2 separate regions of the Homo sapiens genome follow, and region 2 is linked to region 1. Evidence: fine-mapped expression QTL. A gene starts in region 1. The other region holds a variant in brackets. All regions are shown on one strand. Distances are from middle to middle.

Evidence for each region.
Region 2: its variant is fine-mapped to the expression of ARHGAP19-SLIT1 in anterior cingulate cortex (GTEx, PIP 0.99). The same link has a PIP of 0.9 or more in prefrontal cortex.

Annotation. Positions count from the first base shown.
Region 1 is chr10:97,290,982-97,293,891 of GRCh38, forward strand. It overlaps ARHGAP19-SLIT1 (ARHGAP19-SLIT1 readthrough (NMD candidate)), which reads right to left and starts at 1,692. Exons shown (of 15, transcript NR_037909.1): 1 at 1,591-1,692. ARHGAP19 (Rho GTPase activating protein 19) reads right to left here and starts at 1,656. Exons shown (of 12, transcript NM_032900.6): 1 at 1,591-1,656. The coding sequence starts at 1,646. RefSeq lists enhancers at 468-1,226, 1,227-1,983 and a silencer at 1,328-1,377.
Region 2 is chr10:97,139,955-97,142,864 of GRCh38, forward strand. All of the region lies in intron 4 of SLIT1 (slit guidance ligand 1), which reads right to left. Among named protein-coding and RNA genes, the nearest start is that of SLIT1-AS1, 39 kb to the left of the region's middle. RefSeq lists an enhancer at 891-1,631. The variant G/A (reference allele first, on the strand shown) is at 1,171.

The sequences.
Region 1 (2,910 bases):
CCCTGAGCCTAGCTGGGAATGTGACCGCATCCACCTTTAAACACGGGGCTTGCAACTTAGCTCACACCCAACCAATCAGAGAGCTCACTAAAATGCTAATTAGGCAAAAACAGGAGGTAAAGAAATAGCCAATCATCTCTTGCCTGAGAGCACAGCGGGAGGGACAAGGATCAGGATATAAACCCAGGCATTAGAGCCAGCAACGGCCACCCACTTTGGGTCCCCTCCCTTTGTGTGGGAGCTGTGTTTTCACTCTATTTCACTCTATGAAATCTTGCAACTGCAAAACAAAAACAAAACAAAACAAAAAAGAGTGGAAAACTCTTCCATATCATATTTTATTTTATTTATTTATTTGAGACATAGTCTTGCTCTGTCACCCAGGGTGGAATGCAATGGCGCATCTGGGCTCACTGCAACCTCCGCCTCAACCTCCTGAGTAGCTGGGACTACAGGCGCCCGCCACCACACCCGGCTAATTATTGTATTTTTAGTAGAGACGGGCTTTCATCATGTTCGCCAGGCTGGTCTCGAACTCCTGATCTCAGGTGATCCGCTCCCCTCGGCTTCCCAAAGTGCTGGGATTACAGGCGTAAGCCACCATGCCCGGCCCCGTATGATATTTTAAATAACACACTCAACCACGCTCATCTGGGCTCAGGAAGAAGCCGAGTCACAAAGTTATTAGTTTCCCAAGATTCTTGGAATCTCTTATTCGGTACAAATGGAACCAAAAGACGCCAAACCGAAGTATTTTACTGAGTTACACTGAGGCAACGTAAATAAACTCAATCTATTGAATTACACCAAAAACAAAATTGTAATCAATTAAGACAACTTAGGTCTCAAGGCTAAGGCAACACCACCTCGAAATTCTCTCCTGAAAACGCTAAATCTCGGTGTGGCTGTTTAGGAAAGAACATCCTGTGGAAATAAAGTCATGATGTCCTGGACTACAGATCCCTCTCCCATCTGCTCCTTAGCTGTTCTACTAGGAAGAAGAAAATCTATTGCGTAGAGTTGTCATTATCGGCTAAACTCAGTGCTAGCTTTAAATGGATTGTCTTATTCAATCTTGACACTTGGAAATAGGCATCCTCACGTCCCTTTGCAGATGAAGAAACTGAAGTCGAGAGAGGTTTAAAAACTGGCCCAAGGACTCAACACTGTTTCTAATTGACACTCAAATCCTTGCTCGGACCTGAACGCACAAAGTGCCTCGGAGAAGATGTGAAGCGCTGTGTGCAACAGTGAGGAATTCGCTAACCAGCCCTGGACTTCCGTTTCCTCGCCATCAAGAGGTGTCTCGGCGCCAAAGCGATCAGCGCTGCCACCCCCAGCTGGACGTCTGCAGCCAGCGCAGCGGGAGGAGCCCCCTCGGGCACCGGCAGGACCGAGCGGGGGGTTTGGCTGGAGTCCAGCGCCCAGGCCCGACCCCCGCGCCTCAGCCCCCGCAGGCGCGACGATGAGAAACGCCGTGGGAGAAAGAAACAAAGCCCGAACCGTGCGCCTCCGTGACCCAAGGCAAAGGCGGCAGGACTACCAGCCCAAGGCCGCGTTTCCCAGGAAACTGGACCAAACTCAGCTCACCTCCGGCCGGATTCGCGGGCTGGCACCTCCCCTTCACTCTGTGCCTCAGTCGCCATCTTCGTCAGCAAACTTCTTTCACCGCCCCACCTTACGTCCCGCCCCCACATATTTGGATTGGCTAATATGTTTTCACCTCTTCCGTGCGATTGGATGACTCGACCGCCCCTCCTCAACCTGAACCGTTTAATATATTATTGGTCTATTCAAATGACTAACCGTCATTGGTCGTTCCCAGCCCTGGCGGAAAAAGAGGGAGGGGCGGGGAAGAAGACCCAGCCCCGAGGCCTGCCGGGAGTTGTAGTTTCTCATTTTGATGAACCCTTCCGATTCCACAGACCTTTAGGTTCAAGTCAGAAATCACCAGCCTATGCTCAAATTTTGTCCTGATATGTAAATCAGGGAATTATAGAACTGTCAACTTTGAAAGTGACTCATCACTTTCTAAAATGCAAGACTCCGTACCCTATATCTCAGCATCACACAATATACCCAGATAACAAACCAACTCATGTACCCCCTAAATTTAAAATAAAAGTTGAAAATAAATAATTTTTTTTTACAATTTTTTTAATTTTTTTTTTCTGTTGAGACAGGGTTTCACCATGTTGCCCAGGCTGGTCTCGAACCCCTGAGCTCAAGCAATCCTCCTATGTCAGCCTCCCAAAGTGCTGGGATTACAGGCATGAGGCACTGCACCCAGCCATAAATTAATTCATTTAATTTAATGTAATTTAATGCAAGACTCGTTCTCTGTCTTGACCCAGAGATAAATCCCTCAAGTGCAGGCAGGGAGTGGCAACCTAGAAGTACTTGCTTTTAAACGTATAGTTCAAAGCCTTCTTTCTTCAGATACTCAGCATAGCCCTAGCCATAGGTCATTTCTTTCTTCCTTTATTTCTTTCTTTTTTTTTTTTTTTTGAGATAAGGTCTCCCTCTGTCTCCCATGCTGGAGCACAGTACAATATTGCAGCATACCAACACACAGGGCAAATTTTTGTACTTTTTGTAGAGATGGGGTTTCACCCTGTTGGCCAGGCTGGAGTCGGTCATTTCTGCTTCAATACATTCACTCCCTTCCAACTTCCCAGAGAACCCACAGAGTTTGCCTTGTGATATGAACCATGGAACCAAAAGCTGCATGACTTTGTCCCAAACTAAACTTTAATCCTCAATGGTAGGAATAACCATAATTATCCTTGTCCTCCCTGCGGCACACACTTCTCCTAGGGATTAACTGAGGCAACATATGTGAGAACATTGTAAATTTTGAGCATTGTTGTTTTTTGTTTTTCCATATTGTTTTCCTATGCTGGACTTTTC
Region 2 (2,910 bases), 150 kb before region 1:
CAGCAACAGAAGCCTCTGCTTTGTGCTGATTTCTGGCACTTAGCCTGAAGCTCCCCTCTTCCTCTCTGTCTTTCCAGGGGCCTTGCAGGGTGATGAAACCCCAGCATGGCTTTTCCTCTTCCCGCCATCCCTCACCCTGACCATGTTCCTGGGAGTGGGAACATCTCTGGCTCTGACCATGGGGAGGGTGAAAGAGTGGCCCCTGTCTCCCTGCCAAGGCGGGTGTCTCGCCACCAGAATTTATGTGCCAGCGTTCCTCGTACCAGCTTTTCCCAGGTTACCTCCCTACCCATTACTACCCCATTAGTTGCCATGTGTTTTCCCCTAACTGTCACCAGCCCACACTGCCTCTTTGTTACCCTGCAGCTCTCAGGCCGGCCCCTCCCCAACAAGGGGCTAAGCTTCAACTTCGAATTGTGAAATATTTCCTCCCTCTCTCCTGTTCCCCTCCCACCGCCCTCCTTGGGCCCCAGAGCCTTTAGTAAAACAAACCCGCCAAAGGGAATTCTCCGCTGTGTTTGCACAGCACGAGTGGGCCCCCAAGTTGCCTGGAGCCCCTCATTCTCCATAAACACACTTCCCCTCCTTATTGGTATTCAGTCGATACCTTCCTTTCTAACCCTTCCCTGCTTGGCCTCCGCGATCGGCCGACAGAAGGGCCTTTGTTGAAGGAGCAGAGGGGTACAAACACCAGGGCCCCAAAGACAACTACGTGGACTTCAAAGGGGGAAATGAGTCATTGCTCAGCGGGCGATGGCTGGGTGGGGGCAGCCCAGGGGAGAACGGGCTCCTCGGCACCTCTGGTTTTGCCCAGGGATAAACCTCCTGTGTCTCTTTACAAATCAGACATCACTTCCAAAGCGATTTGTCGATTTTTATTGTTCCAAATTTGACTCTGAAATGTGGGCCAGAATCTGGGGTCTGGTAAATATTTTGTTACACAGCTCACTGGAACCACTTTGCTAGAGGGGATGGCTTCCAACACTGAGGCTCAGGCTAGGGGACTTCCAGGCACCCACCAGCTGCCAGTTGCGTGTGTCTGTGAGCAGATTAACCATCCGAAACACCGCTTGGGTCGGCTTCTTCCCTACTCGCAAGTCCTCCACGGCTCCCTTGTCGGAGGCTCTGCATGTAAAAGCACCCCGAGGCTATCAGACCCTGGCTCCCGAC[G/A]ACAGCTCCAGCACGCAGTTCTGGCAGATGCGGATTCAGCCCCTCCCTGAACTCTTCCAGGAATGAGGTGACAAGCACAGCAGCCCACCCTTCAGCAGCCAGCTCGTGTCTAGGAAGCCTGCCTCGTGCAGAACAACATCCACTTCCACCCCTGGACCCAGCTTCTAGAACAAATCTGCTTCCTTGTCCTCATGACAGCCCTTCACATAGATTTGAAAATTACTCTCAGGGTTCCTCTACATTTTCTTTTCATCGCACCAAACAGCCCCAGGCCCCTTGACTCTATCCCATATGAAATGGTTTCCAGATGGCTCCCAGTGTTAGCCACCCTCCTCCAAGCATGTTCAGAGACCTCCACACAAGCACACGCGATAAAACAGATCCTGGTTCTGAACACTGTTCTCTGGATATGCTTGAATCAGCACAGACTAGAACAGGACTGCCCTCCCCTGGAGAGGACACATTGCCTCTATTAATTCAAACTGAGACTATACTCTTTTAGCCACCTTAATGCACTGTATTGCATTGTATTGTATTGCATTGCATTGTATCGTATTGTATCGTATCGTATCGTATCGTATTGTATTGTACTGTATTGTATTGTACTGTATTGTATCGTATCGTATCGTATCGTATCGTATTGTATCGTACTGTATTGTATTGTACTGTATTGTATTGTATTGTACTAGACAGGGTCTCACTAAGTCATGCAGGTTGAAATGCAGTGGCATGCTCATGGTTCACTGCATCCCCAAACTCCTGGGCTCAAGCAATCCTCCTGCTTCAGCCCTCCAGCCTCCCAGTAGTTGGGACTACAGGTGTGTACCACCACACCCAGCGAATTTTTTTGTTTTTATAGAGTAAGGGTCTCACTGATCTCTGGTCCTTGGCTGGTCTCTAACTCCTGGACTCAAGCAATCCTCCCACGTGGGCCTCCCAAAGTGCTGGGATTACAGGCATGAGACACCATGCCTGGCCTCTTAACATACTCTTGACTTAACCTTAGCTTGAAGTCATCGGCCCTTTCACAACAAATACTGCCAAACCAGATCTCTCTTCTTAAAAAAAAACAAAGTTGGAAGACTCATACCTCCCGATTTCAAAACTTACTACAAAGCTACAGTAATCAAAAGAATGTGGTACTGGCATAAAGACAGACAAATAGACCAATGGAATAGAATAGACAGCCCAAAAACAAACTCTTGCAAGTATATGTGGACAAGGGTGTCAAGATCATTTAATGAGGAAAAGACAGTCTCTTCAACAAATGATGCTGGGAAAACTGAATATCCCCATGCAAAAGAATGAAGTTGGACCCTTATCTGATACCATATACAAAAATTAATTCAAAATGGATCAAAGACCTAAATGTAAGACCTAAAACTAAAACACCTAAAAGAAAACATAAGGGGAAAGCTTCATGACATTGGACTTGGCAGTACTTTCTTGGATATGACACCGAAAGCATAGAAAACAAAAGCAAAATAGACAAATGAGACTACATCAAACTTAAAACCATGTTTGTCAAAGGACACAGTCAAAAGAATGGAAAGGCAACTTATGGAATGGAATAAAATATTTGCAAATCATATCTCTGATAAGGGGTTACTATCTAGAATATACAAAGAACTGCTGCAACTTAACAACAAAAAAAATCAAACAACCCAATTAAATAGTAGGCAAAAGACTTGAATAGAAATTTCTCCAAAGATGATACGCAAATAACCAACATAACTAATC